Linked DNA regions of Homo sapiens. The protein of the gene in region 1 purifies or fractionates together with the protein of each later gene. This does not show direct contact. Each region holds a gene or a part of one and is shown in the gene's direction. Other genes may lie near its edges.

Region 1 (7,108 bases):
CTCTTACCCCAAGCTTAGTAACATCACTGGGGGCTTGGGTCAGAACAAGGGAAGGATTACACAGTGGACCCCGGCCCTTTTGCTCTCCCCTTAGCTCTGATTTACATTATTCTGCATACAATGGAATATGTCATCTTCAGATGATGGACTCTATGCATGAAATCCAGGAAAATTGTATTTTAGGTCCCCACCCCTCCAAACACTGTTTTTATGAGGTAGGAATGTATTTCCTTCTTCGTTATGCTGAGGTACTGTAACAATATTCATCCTGTTCATTTCCTGCCTCCTCCCGACACCACTTAGTATTAGGTATCCCAGTACCAAGCCCCTATCTGCCAGGAGTGTATGATGGCTCTCCAGTCCCCATTTCCCCATTATTTGGATACTAAATCCTCTGAGCAATGTCTTTATTTTTTTTTTGAGACAGAATTTCTCTCTTGTTGCTCAGGCTGGAGGAGTGCAATGGCGCAATCGCGGCTCACTGAGTCCTCCGCCTCCTGAGTGGCTGAAATTACAGGCACCCGCCACCACGCCCGGCTAATTTTTTGTATTTTCAGTGGAGGCGGGGTTTCGCCATGTTGGCCAGGCTGGTCTCCAACTCCTGGCCTGAGGTGATCCGCCCGCCTTGGCCTCCCAAAATGCTGGGATTACAGGCGTAAGCCACTGCGCCCAACCTGAGCAATGTTTTTGGTACAAATTTTTTTCCCCTTGAAAAAGGTGTTTTAGTTATAAATACCTTCAAAGAGTAAACAAAATTGCTAGAGAATAAAAAAGGCAGAGTTGCGGTGATTGTGTAATGTTAAATAATAGGAACCATGGGTGGATTCAATGCGGTATTGTAATTTCTTAGAGAAGGAGCAATGGCGATAGAATTTATGATTAGAAGAAACATTCTGGGTTAGGTGTGGTGGCTCACGCCTGTAATCCCAGCCCTTTGGGAGGCCGAGGCAGGTGGATCACTTCAGGTCAGAAGTTTGAGACCAGCCGGGGCAATATGGTGAAACCCCATCTTTACAAAAAAATTTAAAAAGTAGCTGGGCGTGGTGGTATGCGCCAGTAGTCCCAGCTACTCAGGAGGCTGAGGCAGGAGAATCGCTTGAACCCCGGAGGCAGAGGTTGCATTGAGCTGAGATGGCACCATTGCACTCCAGCCTGGGCAACAAGAGTGAAACTCCATCTCAAAAAATAAATAAATAAATAAATAAACAAACATGCCGGCCGTGGTGGCTCTCGTTTGTAATCCCAGCACTTTGGGAGGCCGAGGCATATGGATCACCTGAAGTCAGGAGTTTGAGACCAGCCTGGCCAACATGGCAAAACCCTGTCTCTACTAAAAATACAAAAATTAGCCGGACGTGGTGGTGTGTGCCTGTAATCCCAGCTACTTGGGCGGTTGAGGCAGGAGAATCGCTTGAACCTGGGAGGTGGAGGTTGCATTGAGCCGAGATGGCGCCACTGCACTCCAGCCTGGGTGACAGAGGGAAACTCCGTCTAAAAAAAAAAAGAAAAAATAAAAATAAAATAAATAAATAAATATAAAGGGGTTTGTAGGAAATCAACTAAGGAATATAAAGAGGTATACAAATTCCATGTTTTAGTACTGAAATTTAACATGTGCCTTGTTTTTTAAATTTTATTAAAGGATGCCTAAATTAAAGGACTATTCTTTCAATTTCTAGAACAAATAGTTTGTGTCGGGGCTACTGAAGGCACAACACAGATCAGTGTAGTTGAAATTTATCTCAATATAATTACCTCTTTGGTTCTTCCCTTTCTTTCAGAGACTGATCCTTCAACAAATGCACATTTTCACTGACTCCAAAAAATTTCATTCAAACTTTGGTCTGTATTGCCTGACTTCTTAGACTAGGTTAGTTCCTCTTGTTTTATGTCTATTTCTGTGGCACCTTGTATTTTCCCCTTCTGTACTTCTGCTGCATTTTTTGAATGTTATTCTTTCTAACCTGTAAACTCTATGAAGGCAGGGACAGTGTGTGATTTATTCAACTGCTATAACACGGTGACTGGTACATAATAAATGTTTGTAATTATCTGTTAAATTAATTGACTTGAAAATGTTATCACTCTTGGGAGAACTTGCAATCTCCCTAATTTTTCATATGTTGCTGTTGATTGAATTTAAATAAAATACATATTATTAATAGATTCATGAGGCTAAGGGGTGAAACTTTAAATGAAAATACAGAAAATCATCAGGAATGTAAAAAATCATTGAGAAATATTTATTTTTATCTCCACAGCTTCTTCATTCTTGTTCAATGAAACTGTGATAACCTAAGCGGTAAGTTCCAGTTGGTCTCTCTCTCCAACCCCCTTCACTCTTCATCTGCAAGTTTAGTCACTTTATTGAGGTTAAAACAGGTCATAGATAGTATGTGGTTTAAAACTGTTTAAAAGTTTCACATGTGAAAATCCGGATTTAGGGCCTGGCGCGGTGGCTCACGACTGTAATCTCGGCACTTTGGGAGGCTGAGGCGGGCAGATCGCTTGAGACCTGCCGGGGCAGCATGAAGGGACTTCCCACCCCCACTAAAACAATACAAAAAATGAGCCGGGCTTGGTGGCAAGCCCTGTAGTCCCAGCTACTCGGAGGATGAGGTGGGAAAATCACCTGGGCCCGAGAGGCGGAGGTTGCAGTGAGCCCAGATCGCGCTACCGCACTCCAGCCTGGACGACAGACCCACTCTGTGGCCAAAAAAAAAAAAAAAAAAAAGAAAAAAAGAAAAAAGAAAGAAAAAAAGAAAAGAAAAATCCCGAATTACAAAGCAATTGGGGGAATGGTAATTCAATTAAAAAGGTGTACAACATTCTTTTAAATAGTAAACTGCCCAATGATTACAACATTGATTCAACTGACGAAAAATACAACTTTTCAGACCACGACTAAACATTGTGGCAGTAGAAACTATTTTTTTTTTCCCTGAATGATGAAAGAAAAAAACCAGAGAAGACGTTAAGACAGAACACGTGGAAAAAGCCCATCTCATACTCCATTCTAATGTTTCTTCTACTTACCAGTGCTTTCTGTGTCATTAAACTACTTCAGACTTCAAGAGCAATGGGAAACAATGAAACCTCAGTCCTTTGCTATTTTCCTTTTCAGGTACAGGAGAGGGAGAGGACAGACTTAGGGTTGTGCCTTCGAACAAGCACATTCAACGACAGCCTCAGTTAGAATTCCCAGACGCTGCCTGTCTTCCTGGGTCTTGAAAAAGTGGGGAAAAAGTGAGGTTGGCCCACTCAGACTGCCAGTGATGCTGTGGTGTGACGGGTGTGTATCTCTATCTCATACAATGGGCGCAGGTGAGGACCAGGACCTGCGACCTTCGTACGTTTACAGTCCCTGAAAGCCCTCACCTTTAATTAGTAGGGAAAATAAAAGTCATCTGGCAAGCTGGAGTGCGGGTAAAATACAAGTTAATGAACATGAGCATTCGTGTTCATTAAGAACTCTGGCACAGAGTTCAACGGCAGAGGGCACAATACTCACTGGCCACGGCCAGCTGCTGGCGGCCAGGAGAAGCAGAACCAAAGGACCGCTGGGACTTGTAGTCCACCATGTTTCCCTCGGGATTGCCGATCCCCTTACGAGAACCACAACTCCCAAGGTTTACCGCGCGCGTCGGTCTTCACTGCCCTCTCCGAGGCCGGCTCAGGAACCTCCCGGGAAACTGCCCCCCACCCCGCCCTCGTACGCACGCGTCACGTTTGTTTACCCTGAAGCTCCGCCTCCGGCCATCCCCTGGCTCTCCCCACTCCTCCCTGGAATGCCGTCATGCCGGCGATGAATATTTATGAGGCACACGCGGCCCTCCCGCCCTGCCAGCCTCCCGCCTTCCCGCTCCCGGCGCATGATTAATATTCAATGAGCCCAGATCCGCGGCTGGTTCGCCGGGTTGAGGCGGGGGTAGCGGGCGGGGCCGGCGCTGGGGAGCCCGCGACCCGGGCGGGGAGGGCGTGTGTCGGGGGGGCGGTGGCGGCGAGGCGGGCGCGCGGGATGGAACACTGAGACACCGACGGAATGCTCCGAATCGCCACATAATCCCCTGGAACGGCCGCGCACAACGCCATTGGCTTCTCCCTTCTCCGCGCGCCGCCGCCGTCTCCCACCTCCGCCTCATCGCCTCCCTCTCCGCCCGCTGCCTCCGGAGCTGGGGGGGAAACGCGAAGCCCCACTGCAATGGAGCCCGCCGCCGCGGCCACGGTACAGCGACTCCCCGAGCTCGGCAGGGAGGACCGAGCTTCGGCTCCGGCGGCCGCCGCTGCGGCAGCAGCAGCAGCAGCGGCGGCCGCGGCGGCTCTGGCGGCGGCGGCCGGGGGCGGCCGGAGTCCGGAGCCCGCGCTGACCCCGGCGGCCCCGAGCGGCGGGAACGGCAGCGGCAGCGGGGCGCGGGAAGAGGCCCCAGGCGAGGCGCCGCCGGGGCCGCTGCCGGGCAGAGCGGGGGGTGCCGGGCGCAGGAGGCGGCGCGGGGCGCCCCAGCCCATTGCCGGCGGGGCTGCCCCCGTACCCGGGGCCGGCGGCGGCGCCAACTCCCTCCTGCTGAGGAGAGGGCGGCTGAAGAGGAATCTGTCCGCGGCCGCCGCGGCCGCCTCCTCGTCGTCGTCGTCCTCGGCCGCTGCTGCCTCGCACTCCCCCGGCGCTGCCGGCCTCCCCGCCTCCTGCTCGGCCTCGGCGTCGCTGTGCACCCGGAGCCTGGACAGGAAGACGCTGCTTCTGAAGCACCGGCAGACGCTGCAGCTGCAGCCGTCGGACCGGGACTGGGTGAGGCACCAGCTCCAGCGCGGCTGCGTGCACGTCTTCGACCGCCACATGGCCTCGACCTACCTGCGCCCGGTGCTCTGCACACTGGACACCACGGCCGGCGAGGTGGCCGCCCGCCTGCTGCAGCTGGGCCACAAAGGCGGCGGCGTGGTGAAGGTGCTGGGCCAGGGGCCCGGAGCCGCCGCCGCCCGGGAGCCCGCTGAACCGCCCCCCGAGGCCGGCCCCCGGCTGGCGCCCCCGGAGCCGCGGGACTCGGAGGTACCGCCCGCGAGGAGCGCGCCGGGTGCCTTCGGGGGGCCTCCGCGCGCGCCCCCCGCCGACCTACCCCTGCCCGTCGGCGGCCCGGGCGGGTGGTCGCGCCGCGCCAGCCCAGCGCCCTCGGACTCCAGCCCCGGCGAGCCGTTCGTTGGGGGCCCTGTCTCTTCGCCCCGCGCCCCACGGCCTGTGGTCTCCGACACCGAGAGCTTCAGTCTGAGTCCCAGCGCCGAGAGCGTGTCTGACCGGTTGGACCCCTACAGCAGCGGCGGCGGCTCCTCGTCGTCGTCGGAAGAGCTCGAGGCCGACGCAGCCTCGGCCCCGACGGGGGTCCCGGGCCAGCCCCGCCGTCCCGGCCACCCCGCGCAGCCCCTCCCGCTTCCCCAGACGGCTTCCTCGCCTCAGCCGCAGCAGAAAGCCCCGAGGGCCATTGACAGCCCGGGCGGGGCCGTCCGCGAGGGGTCGTGCGAGGAGAAGGCAGCGGCAGCCGTGGCCCCGGGAGGCCTCCAGTCTACCCCCGGGAGGAGCGGGGTGACCGCGGAGAAGGCGCCTCCGCCGCCCCCGCCGCCCACCCTGTACGTGCAGCTCCACGGAGAGACCACCCGGCGCTTGGAGGCGGAGGAGAAGCCATTGCAGATCCAAAATGACTACCTCTTCCAACTGGGATTTGGGGAGCTGTGGAGGGTGCAGGAGGAAGGCATGGACTCGGAGATTGGCTGCCTCATCCGCTTCTATGCAGGTAAGGAAGTCACCTGCCTTGACGGGTGGTTGCAAAAGCTGCCGAGGACCGAGGAGTGATTCAAATTGCTTGTCAGTTTGCCCAACCCAAGAGTAAGTGCGGGTCCTGATGAGTCTTTGTCTTAAACTTTACAGCTTTTTCATACAGTCTGTGTAGTACTAGATTGAGCAATCTTTAAATCTGCACGTTTTATCAATCTTGAGGGCTCAGAGGTTGGAAAGCAATGTGAAAGAGGTGGCTGAATCACCAGGAAGTACAGGAAGCAGATCCCTCTGAAAGCGGCAAGAGCACCTTTAACCATAAAGGTGCTTCCTCAGGGGCATGTTGGGTTTCAGGCAGTTTGGGATTTCAGGTAAACTGTCACGTGAGCATAAGACGGACAGAAGAAATGACAATAAAAATGCTCTATCACACTTTTGCCTGCATTTGACTGTCCAGTTGAGCGTTCTAGCTGTATGTGCCACCGGGAGCTCCTGACTTGTCAACTGGTGCCTTTGTTTATTCAGCTCTGCCACACTCATAAATTACCCACGGAGCCCTCATTAGAAATCTGACAAAAGGGTGCCTTTTTAACTGATACTTTTCCCCAGCGCTTTTTTTGCTCGATTTCTGTTTCGTCTGCAAGTTTGTCTTGCATAAAAAAAAAGATTTTGCCTGTTTCTCTCATTTTCTTCCAGCCTTTATGGTCAGAACTGACCACCGCAATACGCCTTGCAGGAAGGTTCACAAGAAGGATTTAAGTGGTTGCTATTTCTTCAGATGTGTCCTGAAATCTTCCCCCGTCTTGTTTCAGTACATTAGCAAATTCTTGACTAGGGGTGACCCATGTAATGTTTCTCTTTTGGCTGAAGATTTGGCTAGTACTAAATTCAGGAGCTATAGATGCTGGATATTGTACTTGAGTTTTCTAAGTAGTTTTACATCCCTTTCCTCCTCTGGTTTGAATAATTATGTTCTCAGTGATAAGGAATTTTATTTAAAATAAAGTTCTCATAGCAAAATTAAATCAAGAGTGTTAACTCTTCGCTAACTTTACGTTTTTAGGTTGTAGGTGATGGTGGAAAATAATCATACTTGTAACTCCATTAATTTGTAGCCATTCTTTACAATTTAATGTCTTTTGGTCCAGCTTGTGTGTCCCAGTGGCAATTTAATTAGTTTGCATGAAGAAATCTTTACATCTTTACTCCCACATTGAAATATGCAAGACTGACAGGATTCCTGGTGAGAGAGATGCCCTTTAAATTTCTTGGAAGTTTTTCTGAAATTTAAGTGGATTTCTGATGAATCTTTTACTTGTAAAGAAAACCAAATCGTAATACAGTAGCATT
Region 2 (7,897 bases), on another chromosome or scaffold:
AGATACAGAGTTTCCACACAGGTTCTCCAAGGCCCCACCAGAGCAGCTAGATACAGAGTGTCGACTGGTGCATTCACAAACCTTGAGCTAAACACAGGGTGCTGATTGGTGTGTTTACAAACCTTGAGCTAGATACAGAGTGCCGATTGGTGTATTTACAATCCCTGAGCTAGACATAAAAGTTCTCCAAGGCCCCACCAGAGCAGCTAGATACAGAGTGTGGATTGGTGCACTCACAAACCTTGAGCTAAACACAGGGTGCTGATTGGTGTGTTTACAAACCTTGAGCTAGATACAGAGTGCCGACTGGTGTATTTACAATCCCTGAGCTAGACATAAAGGTTCTCCAAGGCCCCACCAGAGTAGCTAGATACAGAGTGTGGATTGGTGCACTCACAAACCTTGAGCTAAACACAGGGTGCTGATTGGTGTGAGCCCAGCTGCCTTCACCTAGTGGATCCCGCACCGGGGCTGCAGGTGGAGCTGCCTGCCAGTCCTGCGCCGTGCGCTCGCATTCCTCAGCCCTTGGGTGGTCGATGGGACTGGGCGCCGTGGAGCAGGAGGTGGTGCTCGTCGGGGAGGCTCCGGCCGCACAGGAACCAATGGAGTGGGTGGGAGGCTCAGGCATGGGGGCTGCAGGTCCCGGAGCCCTGCCCCGCGGGAAGGCAGCTAAGGCCCGGCGAGAAATCGAGCACAGCGCCGGTGGGCCGGCACTGCTGGGGGACCCAGTACACCTCCGCAGCCACTGGCCCGGGTGCTAAGTCCCTCATTGCCCGGGGCCAGCAGGGCTGGCTGGCTACTCCAAGTGCGGGGCCCGCCAAGCCCACGCCCACCCGGAACTCCAGCTGGCCCGCAAGAGCCGCACGCAGCCCCGGTTCCCGCTCTCGCCTCTCCCTGCACACCTCCCTGCAAGCTGAGGGAGTGGGCTCCAGCCTTGGCCAGCCCAGAAAGGGGCTCCCACAGTGCAGTGGGGGGCTGAAGGGCTCCTCAAATGCCACCAAAGTGGGAGCCCAGGCAGGGGAGGCGCCGAGAGCAAGCCAGGGCTCTGAGGACTGCCAGCACGTTGTAACCTCTCAGTATGACTTAAATTGTGTGGGTATTTCAAATAATTGAAAGTTTTTGGACAAAAGAATATGTAATGTCTAAAGCACTGTTTTTAGAAAATTATTTTGGTAGTTGTTTAGAAGGAATTAATGCACAAAACCATCATAATGATTCAAGTTTGAAATGAAAAAATAATTCATAAGGTTTAGAAACTGATGAATTTATTTAGAAATACCCGGTTTGGGCCGGGCGCGGTGGCTCACGCTTGTAATCCCAGCATTTTGGGAGGGCAAGGTGGGCGGATCACGAGGTCAGGAGTTCGAGACCAGCCTGACCAACATGGCGAAACCCCGTCTCTGCTAAAAATACAAAAAAATTGGCCAGGCCTGGTGGCACATGCCTGTAGTCCCAGCTACTCGGGAGGCTGAGGCAGAAGACTCGCTTGAACCCGGGAGGCAGAGGTTACGGTGAGCCGAGATCATGCCACTGCACTCCAGCCTGGGCGACAGAGTGAGACTCGTCTCAAAAAAAAAAAAAAAAAAAAAAAGAAATACCCGGTTTGGGCCGGGCGCGGTGGCTCACGCCTATAATCCCAGCACTTCCGGAGGCCGAGGCTGGTGGATCACCTGAGGTCAGGAGTTCAAGACCAGCCTGGCCAACATGGTTAAAATCTGTCTCTACTAAAAAATACAAAAATTAGCCAGGTGTGGTGGCAGGTGCCTTAATCCCAGCTATTTGGGAGGCAGAGGCAGGAGAATCGTTTGAATCCGGGAGGCAGAGGTTGCAGTGAGTCGAGATTGAGCCATTGCACTCAAGCCTGGGGGACAAGAGCGAGACTTCTCTTAAAAAAAAAAAAGGAAACAAAAAAAAAAGAAATACCTGGTTTGAGGCCGGGCGCGGTGGCTCACGCCTGTAATCCTAGCACTCTGGGAAGCTGAGGTGGGTGGATCACCTGAGGTCAGGAGTTCGAGACCAGCCTGGCCAACGTGGTGAAACCCCGTCTCTACTAAAAATACAAAAATTAGCTGGGTGTGGTGGCATGCGCCTGTAATCCCAGCTATTCGGGAGACTGGGGCAGGAGAATTGCTTGAACTTGGGAGGCGGAGAGCTGAGACTGTGCCACTGCACTCCAGCCTGCGGAGAGCTGAGACTGTGCCACTGCACTCCAGCCTGGGCAACAGAGTGAGACTCCATCTCAAAAAAAAAATTTTTTTTTAAATTCCCGGTTTGAAATTGAAAATCAGAAATAAAATTAGGTCAGGCCCATTTATTTATTTATCTATTTATTTATTTATTTCCTGAGATGGAGTCTCGCTCTGTTGCCCAGGCTGGAGTGCAGTGGTGCCATCTCGGCTCATTGCAACCTCCACCTCCCGGGTTCAAGCAATTCTCTTGCCTCAGCCTCCCGAGCAGCTGGGATTACAGGCATGTGTCACCACGCCTGGCTAATTTTTGTACTTTTAGTAGAGATGGGATTTCACCATGTTGGCCAGGCGGTCTCAAACTCCTGACCTCGTGATCTGCCCGCCTCGGCCTCCCAAAGTGATGGGATTACAGGTGTGAGCCAACACGCCCAGCCATTCAGGCCTAGTTATTTAGATTTGGGTGTTGCTTATTGAATCTTTGAATATGGAGGAAAAGTTATGAGATAAAAAGAATAAAAATAGAGACTATTCAAAGGCTATGCATGGGACTGGGCACTGTGGCTCATGCCTGTAATACCAGCACTTTGGGAGGCCAAGGTGGGTGGATCAGCAGGTCAAGAGATCAAGACCATCCTGGCCAACATGGTGAAACCCCATCTCTACTAAAAATACAAAAATTAGCTGGGCGTGGTGGTGCACATCTGTAGTCCCAGCTACTCGGGAGGCTGAAGCAGGAGAATCGCTTGAACCTGGGAGGCAGAGGTTGCAGTGAGCCAAGATTGCACCACTGCACTCCAGCATGGCGACAGCGAGACTCCATCTAAGAAAAAAAAAACAAAACTAAACCAAAGGCTATGCATGAGACAAAGTGAACAGTTTATTACTGTGATTATAATAAAATGTTGAATTTATATAGGGTAAAATCTTGATAGAATGCTTGAATTATATAGGTATTATGGGAAATACAATGTTATGGTTAATTGAAGAATAATACAAAATTTTGTTTTAACTTTTGCTCGCTGGGTTTTTTTCCCCCCCCAAAAATTATACTTTTTTTCCTCTTGATAATTAGGAAACACAGATAAATTATTTTTAGATGATTCAAGATGCCACTATCCTTCAAGTTGATTATTGTAAAATACGTGTTTTCAATGTAAAATAACACAGTTATGGAGTTTGGGATATAGCCATGGTAACGACAGAACATACCCTGGTGTTTTAAGATTAGGGAAAGTCGGATAACATCAAAACAATTCTAAGAAAAAATTTTAAGTATTTTTCAGGCTCTATTAATTAAGAAGTACTTCAGTGCTTTTTTTTCTTTTTTTTTTCCAACACTACAAAGGCTAAAGATGTTATTATCAAATGTATTACTACATCATTGGCACAGTTTCTATTGGTATCTACTTGCTTTTTAATACGGAAGATGTTTATGATTTACACTCCTCCTACTTTAGAAATTCTCTCCATTCACTTCTTTTGTGCCCCTCCAGATATAATCTGAACTTCCAGGAATAGATCATTCTTGGTGTTACAAATGTTGGCTTCCCCCCTCCCTGGAATTCTATTAGAATGTTTCTGTCACTTTAGAAGCTTTCTTATTCTGGTGTAACATGCCAAGAAACCCAGGTATAAAATAGTGATTGTTGAATCTTACTTTGACACGTGTGCCCGTCCTTATAAATCTAGACCCTGTACATTACATGCATACAACTATCCCTATGGATCTACTAGTAAATAATCTCACAGACTCCACCTGAGGCTTCTGGAAAAAAAAACAATTACCTTAAATTTTATTAAGAGCTCTTCGTAACCTACTGAGCAAGATCAGTGAATCCTAAAAAGATTCAGTCCCCGGTTCCCAAAGCGCTTCCCCGCCCCGTGTTTCTGAACAGCTGGAGAGGACAAACCTCCGCTAAGAAGCGGAGGCCGCCAGTGCTCATCACACGCAGGAATTAGGATATCTGGCTTGAGAACACCTATGCTGTACCACATTCTTCTCTCCCCCTACCCCGCCTGAAATAAAACATAGTGAAGCGTAAATCTTGAGTCCCTTGGTACCTTCTCAGAAACGGCGGCGAGGAGGCTTCAGAGGGGCTTCCTGGGCGGGGATCCAGACGGTCGCGCGGGTATTCAGCACTCTGGGCGGGACAGTCCCTGTCCCGAAGGGAGGGCCCAGGAGGGGTGGAGCCGTCCCCGCCCGAACACGGGGGCATCCGCGCTCCCCGTAGGGTACCCCGCGTGCTGGCTCCGAAGCGGTGGCCGTCGGGGTGGCGCTCTTCCTCCGCTCTTTGGGGTCCCGGCGCCCCTCAGGGCAGGGCGGGAGACCGCTGAGGAGGCACCCTCAAGTTCACCTCAGGCTCATGACACCAGCCCCGCCGCGGTTCCCCCTGACCGGCTTTCCGCTGGCCCTGGCGGCTGCGGAACGGTCAACTAGACCCCACTAGCTGAAGCCGGCATCACCTGGGAAGCAGCCATGCCGCCCGGAGGCCACACCCGGGGGAGGAGCCTGCGGACGCCCAGTCGGGTGGAGCACGCCAGGTGAGCACGCCTGCGCAGTCGGGCCGTAAACAAGCCCACCCCTTCCCTTTGGCCCGCCCTCGCAGGGCTGGCCCGCGGGTGGGAGGGGCGAGAAGGAAGAGGCAGGGGGTGGGGGAAGAGGGAGCACCAGGAACAGCGCCTGCGCGGTGGGCGTGATCCGGGCACTTAGGGCAGGATGAACGCTGCTTTCCAAGATGGCGACGGAGGGAGGAGGGAAGGAGATGAACGAGATTAAGACCCAATTCACCACCCGGGAAGGTCTGTACAAGCTGCTGCCGCACTCGGAGTACAGCCGGCCCAACCGGGTGCCCTTCAACTCGCAGGGATCCAACCCTGTCCGCGTCTCCTTCGTAAACCTCAACGACCAGTCTGGCAACGGCGACCGCCTCTGCTTCAATGTGGGCCGGGAGCTGTACTTCTATATCTACAAGGGGGTCCGCAAGGTACCGACCCGGGCGTCACCGGAGCCAGCCAGCGGCGTAGGCAGAGGCCGGGAGCAGGGCGGTGACAGTGGGGCCAGGGTGACCGAGAGGGGTGGCCGTCGCTCTTACTTTTGAGTGGGCCGGTAACTCCACTGGGGTACTCCTGAGGAGAGGGGATTCAGGAGTAAGGAGGGTGGTGGCGGTGGCGTTTCGAAGGGGTGGGGGCAGTGGAAAGGGACCGTGGGGCGCGGGGGTTCTGGCTGGGAGGCTCCCGGGGGAGCCGGCTGCGTCCCCTCCAGCCTGGTCCATCAGGCTCTGACATGGCCAGGGAGCGGGCCTGCGAGTCCCCGGAAGAGGTGAGGTGGCCGTCTTGTCTGCTTCGATTGCCTCGCCTCCCTGGAGGGTTGGAAGTCTCGCCCTGGGTTAGAGAACAGGGACGCAAGACGGCTTAACAAGATCTCTGTAAGGCGGAACCGGGGCCGGGAAGCGGAGCATTGAGACTAGGTCAGAAAGAACCTGCTCGGCACGCAGGGCTACTCCACCTGCTGCCGCACTGACACTTCCTAGGAGCCTCTCCTGGTGTTAACATTTCTATTTCCAAAAACATCCGCGGGAGGACGGCTGTCACTGTCTCCGCCGTGGGGACCTTCTGAAAGATTGTTAAGGAGAGTCATCTTGTCCCTTGTAGTATGCGAAGGGCTGAGTACTACAGTTGAAATGATGTTTCCAGTGAACTAAGCTGGTTCAGAGGGGTTGTGTGAGAGTGCCCAGATTAATCTTGTCCAACAAGTCAGACTGTGTCCCAAACAGGGAGTGATATGCTTTAAAAGCTGCTTTAAAGGGACCATCCTTCTTGGCGGGCGAGTTACCGGTAATTCTGTGAAACATGTAAGCATCCTTTAAAAGTATCTCTTTAAAAGCAGCCATTTATTAGAGTTTTTCTTTCATTGGCTATGTAACTATGTTTTCACTGAGAATTGCTTATTTTTGAGATTGTAGTCTTTGACTTGATGTCATGGAAGAGTGAGGAAATTAATGCATCCCACAGCACCTCCAAATAGGACAAGGTGATAAAAGATTAAGTCGTAAATGCATGTTAGCATGAAAATAAATTGTTCATATTGAAGAGTGAACATTCTTCAGGATTTAATATAGCCAGATCCAGTACAGGATTTTCGCTTGTTACAAGAGCTAGGGAAATGACAGTGGTATCTAAATGTAGCAAAGTTGTTTCTTTGATTCAGGGTGAATCTTTTTTTCTTAGTCTTTATGATAATAAGTGTACCACTGTATTTAGGGTATGCTGTTGGAAGTTATTAAGGGTAAATCGCTTGACCTTTTTTTTTTCCTCGTTTGGAATTGCAAAAGCTCGAAGTAGTCTTCAGTCTAGGGGCTGAAGTTTTACTCCTACTCCCAACTTTGTCACTGACTTGTTTGGGTGACCTTGGATAAGTTATTTAACTTCTATTTGCACCTCTTTAAAAAGGGAATGTTACAGTGCACGTTGTAATTAATAATATAATAATCATAATGAACTTTAAGGCCCTGAAACACTCAGTAGATGTAAAATATAGTTAAATACTGACTGTCAAATAAGAAGCTGCTGTCTTGACATTGATAATCAGAGTGAAAGGACCAATTTTGTCTCAGGAAATTAAGTTTAGAATTTTAAGTTATAAAAATTTATATTTATATAAAAATACGATGTGCTTAAAAACTAAATTCACTAACTAGCAATTATTAATGTAGGAATTACTTAAAAATTTTTTTTTCTTTGAAATGTTATGACTTCTGAAGCATCCTAATGGCAGACCTTATCTGGATCTGGTAGCCCTGTTTTACATCATAAAGACAGGTTTCTTGCCTGGAAGTATCATTACAATAGTGTTCTCTTTTAGTGGGACGCTATTCCCTGAAGGGTAAAAGGAGGCAAGGTTTTTAAAACCACACCAAAAAATTATTTTAAACAAGATAAATGTGAAATACGTAAATTGCCCTTACCTGCATAATTTGAGTGTTTTAACGCTTTTTGGGTAAAATTTCATTTTCATGTGGTAGTATCTTGTAGATACATTTGCATTGTGTTGCAGATGTTTCTACTCTCTTTTAATTGTAACTTAAACATTTTTTTCCATGAATGAGTTGGCATTTATTTGTTGTTATTTCTGAGTATAAGTGACTTTTTATGACTATTTTCTGATTTAAAATATAGGAAATACATTTTCCTTAATTGGAAAACCAAAATTTACTTTTTAGAGTTAGTAGTTACAAACATATTTTTGACAGTTGGCTATTAAACATGTTTTTGTTTTTGTTTTTAGAGACAGGATCTCATCCTGTTGCCTAGGCTGGAGTGCGGTGGCGTGCTCATCGTTCACTACAGCCTCAAACTCCTGGGCTCAAATGATCTTCCCACTTCAGCCTTCCTAGTGGCTGGAACTACAGGTGTGCACCACCCTGGCTAATTAAAAAAAAAAATGTTTTTTAGAGATGGAGGTCTTGCCGTGTTGCCCAGGCTGGTCTTGAACTCCTGGCCTCAAGCGATCCTCCCACCTCAGCCTGCTAAAGTGCTGAGATTATAGGTGTGACCCACCATGCCCAGCGCACAGTTGGCTGTTTTGACTTTTTTTTTTTTTTTTTTTTTTTGGTCCTTTGAGGCGTGTAAAATTTTACAATAATTATTTGGATTATTCAGAAGATCTAATTTAGATGAGTAAATTCAACTTAAGTCTGTGTGTAAAATGA
Region 3 (7,139 bases), on another chromosome or scaffold:
CTGAAAATAGAAGAAACTTATTAGGACAAAGCATAGAAGGATAAAAGACAGAAAATACAGAATAAAGGGATGAAGTAAGAAGGTTGAATGTGTTTCAACTGGAGCCCCAGAAAGAAAGAAGAAAAAGGACAGAAATCGTATTTGAACATATAATGTCTGAGAATTGTTCAAAACTGAGGAAAAACTATTCAAAGGTGATAGGCAGCCGTGAAATGACAGATATCCACTCTACCGTGTATTCTCTTCTTTTTTTTTTTTTTTTTTGAGACAGAGTCTCACTCTGTCACCCAGGCTGGAGTGCAGTGGTGCAATCTTGGCTCACTGCAACTTCCACCGTCTGGGTTCAGGCAATTCTCATGCCTCAGCCTCCCAAGTAGCAGGGACTACAGGCGCACGCCCAGCTAATTTTTGTATTTTTAGTAGAGACAGGGTTTCACCATGTTGGCCAGGCTGGTCTCGAACTCCTGACCTCAGGTGATCCGCCCACCTCAGCCTCCCAAAGTGCTGGGATTATAGGCATGAACCACCACGCCTGGCATACTCTGACTCTCAAAAACCTTAATGTACAAAGCTGCCTTTAAAAGGATTCTGAAACCAAGATGAAGGTAGCTCGGTAGTAGTTGGAACAGGGCTTGCCTGGGCTGAGTTCAAGTACAAGCTCTGCTACTTCCTAGCTGTGCCACCTGGAGAAAGTTGCCAAACTTCAATTTTTTCAAGTAATAAATGAAAATAAAGAGTAACACTGGCCTACCCCATTGTGAGAATCAAATGATAAGTTCGGGCAAGGTGGCTCACACCTGCAATCTTGACAGTTTAGGAGGCCAAGGTGGGAGGGTCTCTTGAGCCCAGCGGTTCCAGGCCAGCCTGGGTAATAGAGTGAGCCCTTGTCTCTAAAAGAAAAAGGAAGACAGAAAAAGAGAATCAAATGATAAAATGCATGTGAATGAGTCTAGTGAATGCGAAGTGCTTTTAAAATGAGATGTGGTTTGAGCAGTTCCACAAGCATGCCCAGGGTCACTACCAGTGACAGGCAGGACTGGCCATATAATTTGCAGGGCCCAGTGAAAAATGAGAGTGCAGGGCCCTTTGTTGAGAAAGTACTAAGAATTTCAAGACGGCGGCAGCAGAGCATTAGACCCAGCACAGGGCTCTTCTAAGTACACGGCCCTGTGTACTACACAGGTCACATACCCATGGAACTGGTCTTAGGTACAGACCCTGCAAAGAACCGTACTGTGCCTTAGGAAAGGGCTGCTCATCCCACATCCAGGTATCTGCAGCCATAGCGCATGTCATCTTTGAATTCTGAAGGGCAGTAATGTTTAGGGAAAATGCAAGCACATGTGTTTCCAAATGCCAAGGAAGGCAAGTGCAGTGATCAGAGTGGTTTTCTGGGAGAGTGGGTGGGGCTAGCAAGGCTGCCATCGGAACTGTGGAACTGACTGTTCTCCACAGACTCTGGCCTAGAAAAAAAAAGAACCGTGTAGCTGTATCTACAGGGCCTGTTGTTGTTGCTGCGGTGTATTACAACACAGCCTGGCAGCCTCCCCTGCCTTTCTGTCTTCCTCCTGGAAGAGCCTGGTCCCAGACATGTGACACGTCCACACAGCCCTCTGCAGATTTGCCCACACTGCTCCTCACTGTTCCCTCAATTATTAGGCTTTTCCAGGTCTGCATGCTTTTTGCTCACGCTGTCCCCTCCTGCCTGGGAGTCCCTTTCCCCCTTGTCCACACCCCTCTGTCTGGCAAACACCTACTTCATCTTCTAAGATTCAGCTCTACTGTCAGGTGACCTCTTCAATGACGCCTTCCCTGCCTCTCGTAGGAAGAGCTGATTCCTCTTTCCTTGGCGCCTTCCATTGTGCCCTATGCAGACATCTGTCACAACCCCTGTAACATGAAGAGGAGAACTGACATGTTACGTGTATGTCACTGTCTCCTAATGAAGCCCTTGAGGGTTGGGACATATATACCCTGATAGCATAGAGCTTAATATGTGCTGTTATTTTTATTTTATTTTATTTTATTTATTTATTATTATTTTTTTTGAGATGGAGTTTTGCTCTTGTTGCCCAGGCTGGAGTGCAATGGTGCCATCTCGGCTCACTGCAACCTCCGCCTCCCGGGTTCAAGCGATTCTTCTGCCTCAGCCTCCCGAGTAGCTGGGATTACAGGCATGCGTCACCATGCCTGGCTAATTTCGTATTTTTAGTAAAGATGGGGTTTCTCCATGTTGGTCAGGCTGGTCTCGAACTCCCGACCTCAGGTGATCCGCCCACCTCTGTCTTCCAAAGTGCTAGGATTACAGGTGTGAACCACTGTGCCCTGCCTAATATGTGCTATTATTAAGCATAGTAGATGCTTAATCAATTGGTATTAGTATGCAGAGGAATTTTGATCAACTTTGTTTTTCTGCGTTAATGAACAAATACATTGTTTCAGTGACTCCCCTCGGCAACTGGTAAACAGGGAAGCTTCTAGGCACTGAGGACAGACAAATGACTGAGACAGAACCCCTGCCCTCGAGGCGGTTTCAGTCTTGGCTTTATTTGTCTTTTCTGCAGACATCATCACCCTTTTTTTTTTTTTAGAATGGAGTCTCGCTCTTGTTGCCCAGGCTGGAGTGCAATGGTGCGATCTCGGCTCACTGCAACCTCTGTTCAAGCAATTCTCCTGCCTCAGCCTCCTGAATAGCTGGGATTACAGGCATGCGCCACCATGCCCGGCTAATTTTTTAAAATTATTTTTAGTAGAGACGGGGTTTCTCCATGTTGGTCAGGCTCGTCTCGAACTCCCGACCTCAGGTGATCCGCCCATCTCGGCCTCCCAAAGTGCTGGGATTACAGGCGTAAGCCACCGCGCCCGGCGCCCAGGCATCATCTCTTGAAGGCAGCATGGCGATTTCTGGACGAGGCTCTTCATAAATGTTTGAATGCAGTATAGTGCAAAGAGAGCAGGTTTGGAGCCAGGAGACATGAGTTCTAATCTGGCTATGGGATATTAGGTTTCCATAGGTAACTATTAGGTCCCACGTGTAACTAGCTATGGGACATCAGGTTTCTGTTTCCTTAAAAATGAGAGAGTTGATTAGAGATTCCCTAAGGCCCAGGTGCAGCTCCTGCATCTCTATGGGAGTAACTCAGAGGTAGCCATCTGGTTGGCAGTCTACCTTTCGGAGTTGGCGGAAGAACTCAGCCGTTTTGTTTTTGTTTTTGTTTTGAGATGGAGTCTTGCTCTGTCACCAGGCTGGAGTGCAGTGGCGTGATCTCGACTCACTACAACCTCTGCCTCCCAGGTTCAAGCGATTCTCCTACCTCAGCCTCCCGAGTAGCTGGGACGGCGCGCGCCACCAAGCCCAGCTAATTTTTGTATTTTTAGTAGAGACGGGGTTTCACCATGTTGGCTAGGATGGTCTCGATCTCTTGACCTCGTGGTCCGCCCACCTCGGCCTTCCAAAGTGCTGGGATTACAGGCGTGAGCCACCCCACCTGGCCGAACTCAGCCGTAAGGCCTCTTCCTGTTTTAATCTCCTGGGATCTCCTGCTTGAAAGGTAGCAAGCCAAGAGAAAGTATGGTCTTTACAGTCACTGGGTGTCCAGAGGGAGGTGATATCTGCTAAATTGGTTCTCGAGGTGGGATTTCCCCAGTCCCGACTGGGCATCTTAGACTTAATGGGGTTGCTTCCTAGGGCTAACCTGGCCAGCTGACCTAACAAACAGCCTGGCCTGCCCCTCTCCGGCCTCTAGGTAGGCCCTGTGGACAGATAGGAGGGGCAGTGCCTTCAGAGAGACGATACAGATGGGAAGTCAACTAGCTTGCTTAGGCATTAATTTCTCGGGAGGTAAGAGATGTGAGGGGGTGTCAGTTTCCACCATCCCTTCTCTATGGCCCCCACAAAGGGCAAGGGCCAGACACGTGGGCTGGCGTGGGGAGGTGGAGGAGCAAATGATGGGGGCGGGGCCTCATTTGCATGGACGGCGCGCGGCCACCAATCCGGACAGGCGGATCGACAGCCCGCGCGCCTTTTGGGGGCGGACTGACAGCCCCGGGGCCCTATGGAAGGCGGGTCCTGCGGCCGGCTGGGGCGGGACGGCGCCGGGCGCTGCCCCGGGGATTCGGGCCGGCTCGCGGGCGCTGCCAGTCTCGGGCGGCGGTGTCCGGCGCGCGGGCGGCCTGCTGGGCGGGCTGAAGGGTTAGCGGAGCACGGGCAAGGCGGAGAGTGACGGAGTCGGCGAGCCCCCGCGGCGACAGGTACCGGCGCCATGGCCACGGAGATGGGGCGGCCGGCCGCGGCGCCCCGGGAGCCGAACGCCCTCCTTCCAGGTCCCGCCGCGGTCGCACTCGCTGCCTCAGCTCCCACCCCCACGCGGCTTCGCAGCCCAGGAGCCGCGTGTCGCGGGGGAGCGGGGTCCGGAAGCCTCGAGGGGAGCGCGCGGGAGGCCTCGGCCCCACTGCGGCGCCCCTCGCCGCGCCCCAGGGGCCGCGGGGCCGGTGCTCCCCGCGGGAGGCGCGGAGACTAGTGACCGCGGGCGCCGCTCTCCGCCCCCGCCGGCCTCTCCCGGCAGAGGCGAGGCGGGTCGCGCCCGCCCGTCCTCACTGGGCTTTTGTTTCCCGCCCGGGATGACAGGTCCCGCTCCGCCTCCGGTCTCTGGCCCCCGGCTCTCCCCGGACAGGCGGCCGGACCCTCAGCCGGCACCGCTGCGGGCGGGAGCCAAACTTCGCTTTCGGGTCCGGGCGCCGGGACAACCGGACCCCAGGGCGAGCCGAGCGCCGGGACGCCGCGGGCGCGGGGCGGATTCGCCCACCTGGCGGGGCTGTGAAGGGGATGGTGGCGGGGTGGCCGCGCTCCGGGTGTGGACGGGCGGTCCCCGCCTTCACCTGCCGCCTCGGGACAAGCGTTGGGGAACCGCATCGCCGCTGTCGGCCGCTTGTGGAGGAGTCCGCGCAGCGCCGTCTAACAGGTGATCCGCGTCACTCCCAGGCCATACCGAAGCGGCTGAACGCTGTGCCAGGGCTCCTTATGCTCTTCTGTTCTGGGACGTGAAAACGTCTTCCGCCTTATTGGTCGTCCAAAAAGGTGCACCGGTCACAGTATAAGAGTCAAAAACCAGTATTACCAAAAAGACACTACGAGCGTCAGGGTGCAGAGTGGCTTTCTTCGATTAACGAACCGGCAGGACCATCGTAGTCTCTAAAATCGGGTTCTGCAGTGGTGGCGAAAGCGTAGTAAGTTTCAAGTTGTAAGCGGAGATGCAGAATTGTAGATACCCTTCAGTGTGGTTCAGGACAGTGTGTTCAGCGTTTGGCCGCCGTTCAGTAAATTCTGCATGAAGCAGTTTGAGCTCGTGGTTTTGGATTTACTTTTCAGGAGTATGTTTTCCAGTGGAATAAGGCTTACTACTGAATGGGAGCTTTCTTTGCCTCTCTGAGTGTAGACAGGAGTGTTTATTTTCATTGTCTTCCCATTTTGTTAGATTGTGGACAAGGGAAAAGTTAAAGCATATTTTGGTTAAGTATTTTTAATAGTCTGGGATTCTATCCACCTCCTCCATAAGGGTTTTTACTTTAGAGAATTATAAAGTAATTCTCTAAAGGGAGCTGCTTCTCTTGGTGTTTGAATCAAAAGCCAAGAATCGACTTGAAAAAAATTCTTATTCTGGTGGGAAATTTTTATTGTCATACTTTCACTTCACCATTTTCTGTTTGTCTCTCCCCCAGCTGACCTCTGCCTGACAGTCTGCAATTATGGCCCTGACCAATTTAGAGATTCTATACAAATGACATTTTTAAAACGAGGGTTATTAATACTCATTATTTGTGAGAAACACTTTATTTAGTTACCCAGTTTTTTTCTTCTAATGTGTCTTGGTTGATATCTGTATTAGGTAAGATTTATACTTCGGAGATTAAGTTTAAGTTAAGAACAAAGTTGCTAATCTTGATTTAATTATGCTAGTTTATTATTCATTGAATGGTCATTTTACTTATTTGCCTAGGTAATTACAGTTAGCTAATAGCTGATAAGAGTTCGCCATTGAACCATCAACTCTTCAACCAATAATTGTGACTATTTTAGATTAAAAAGAATATAGTGGTCTTTATTGTTTTATTTCTCCATAACAAGCTATGAGGTCTTTGTATGTTTCTGAGTCTTTAATTCTTTTAGTTATGGGAATTTTGGGTGAATTTCTTTTTTAAAACATATTTTTAATCAGTTCAAATGAAAAACTTAAAATATTGCATTAGGCAACTTATTAAATCTTTAGTTATCTGTTTATTCTTGGAAAATAATGCATATTTTGGGTTCAGTTTAGTTTCCTAAAGGCTTCTCTGCTTAGGATGAATTAGTCTGGAGAGGAAAGAACATCCTGTTTGTATACCTGTAGAAGAAGTTACTGCTGTTAAAAGCTAAGTTGGCTTTTTGATGTTTAGTGTGGATAGGTTGAACAATAATTCATCCTCACGTTCGGAGGGCTTATTCTATGTAAATAGTTGAAAGGAACTGGATAAGACTGTAGCTTCCATTATTTTTTATCATTTATATAATTGCTCTTTAGTGTACTTAAATATATAAAATACTATTAATAATTAGTTGTTTATTGTCCTTATTCTGTGATGATGTATGTATATAAACCACATACAATAAAGTTGCATTTCATAAATTTATTTACATATGTGTATTTTAGTATTTTAACTATAAAAGTTAAAGTTTTATTAACTTTAGGTTTAATTAAAAGCCCATTTTAAAATTTAGTTTTTAGATATTTTAATTACTGATTTTTCTCTACTTTAACTTGTAATAGATGATATCATAAAATTATCAACTACAATTTCAGTTTCAAAAATTAAGCATAAGTTGAATTCTCAAATCCACACAATAAACATTGGGAGTGTTTTTAAAGCCATTTACCCTCAGGTATAACTCCTTTTGAGTTTGGAGGTGATAGTAAGTATTTTTAAATAAATGAAGCTACAGAAAACAAGGGCTTACATTAAAACAACTAATTTTGAGGCTAGATCAAATGCCACTATTATAGACATTAGTTTTGCTTTTTTTTTTTTTTTTTTTTTTGAGATGGCGTTTTGCTCTTGTTGCCCAGGCTGGAGTGCAAGGGCGCAGTCTCGGCTCATTGCAACCT

Evidence for each region. Proteins that work in one complex are often made in the same cells at the same time.
Region 2: the proteins of PHLPP1 (region 1) and WDR20 purify together in Homo sapiens (affinity purification with mass spectrometry; 4 studies listed by BioGRID and IntAct, with this or other methods). This does not show direct contact.
Region 3: the proteins of PHLPP1 (region 1) and FKBP5 purify together in Homo sapiens (affinity purification with mass spectrometry; 4 studies listed by BioGRID and IntAct, with this or other methods). This does not show direct contact.

The regions. Positions count from the first base shown.
Region 1 is NC_000018.10:62,711,483-62,718,590, forward strand, and holds the start of PHLPP1 (PH domain leucine-rich repeat-containing protein phosphatase 1), read left to right. Parts: upstream 1-4,058; 5' UTR 4,059-4,201; coding exon 4,202-5,777; intron 5,778-7,108. UniProt on the Homo sapiens protein: Protein phosphatase involved in regulation of Akt and PKC signaling.
Region 2 is NC_000014.9:102,135,000-102,142,896, forward strand, and holds the start of WDR20 (WD repeat-containing protein 20), read left to right. Parts: upstream 1-4,897; 5' UTR 4,898-4,924; coding exon 4,925-5,173; coding exon of another isoform or gene 5,174-5,209; intron 5,210-7,897. Other genes in the region: HSP90AA1 (heat shock protein HSP 90-alpha), read right to left, coding at 4,251-4,405. UniProt on the Homo sapiens protein: Regulator of deubiquitinating complexes. Activates deubiquitinating activity of complexes containing USP12. Anchors at the base of the ubiquitin-contacting loop of USP12 and remotely modulates the catalytic center of the enzyme.
Region 3 is NC_000006.12:35,685,916-35,693,054, reverse strand, and holds the start of FKBP5 (peptidyl-prolyl cis-trans isomerase FKBP5), read left to right. Parts: upstream 1-4,139; 5' UTR 4,140-4,251; exon of another isoform or gene 4,252-4,323; intron 4,324-7,139. UniProt on the Homo sapiens protein: Immunophilin protein with PPIase and co-chaperone activities. Component of unligated steroid receptors heterocomplexes through interaction with heat-shock protein 90 (HSP90).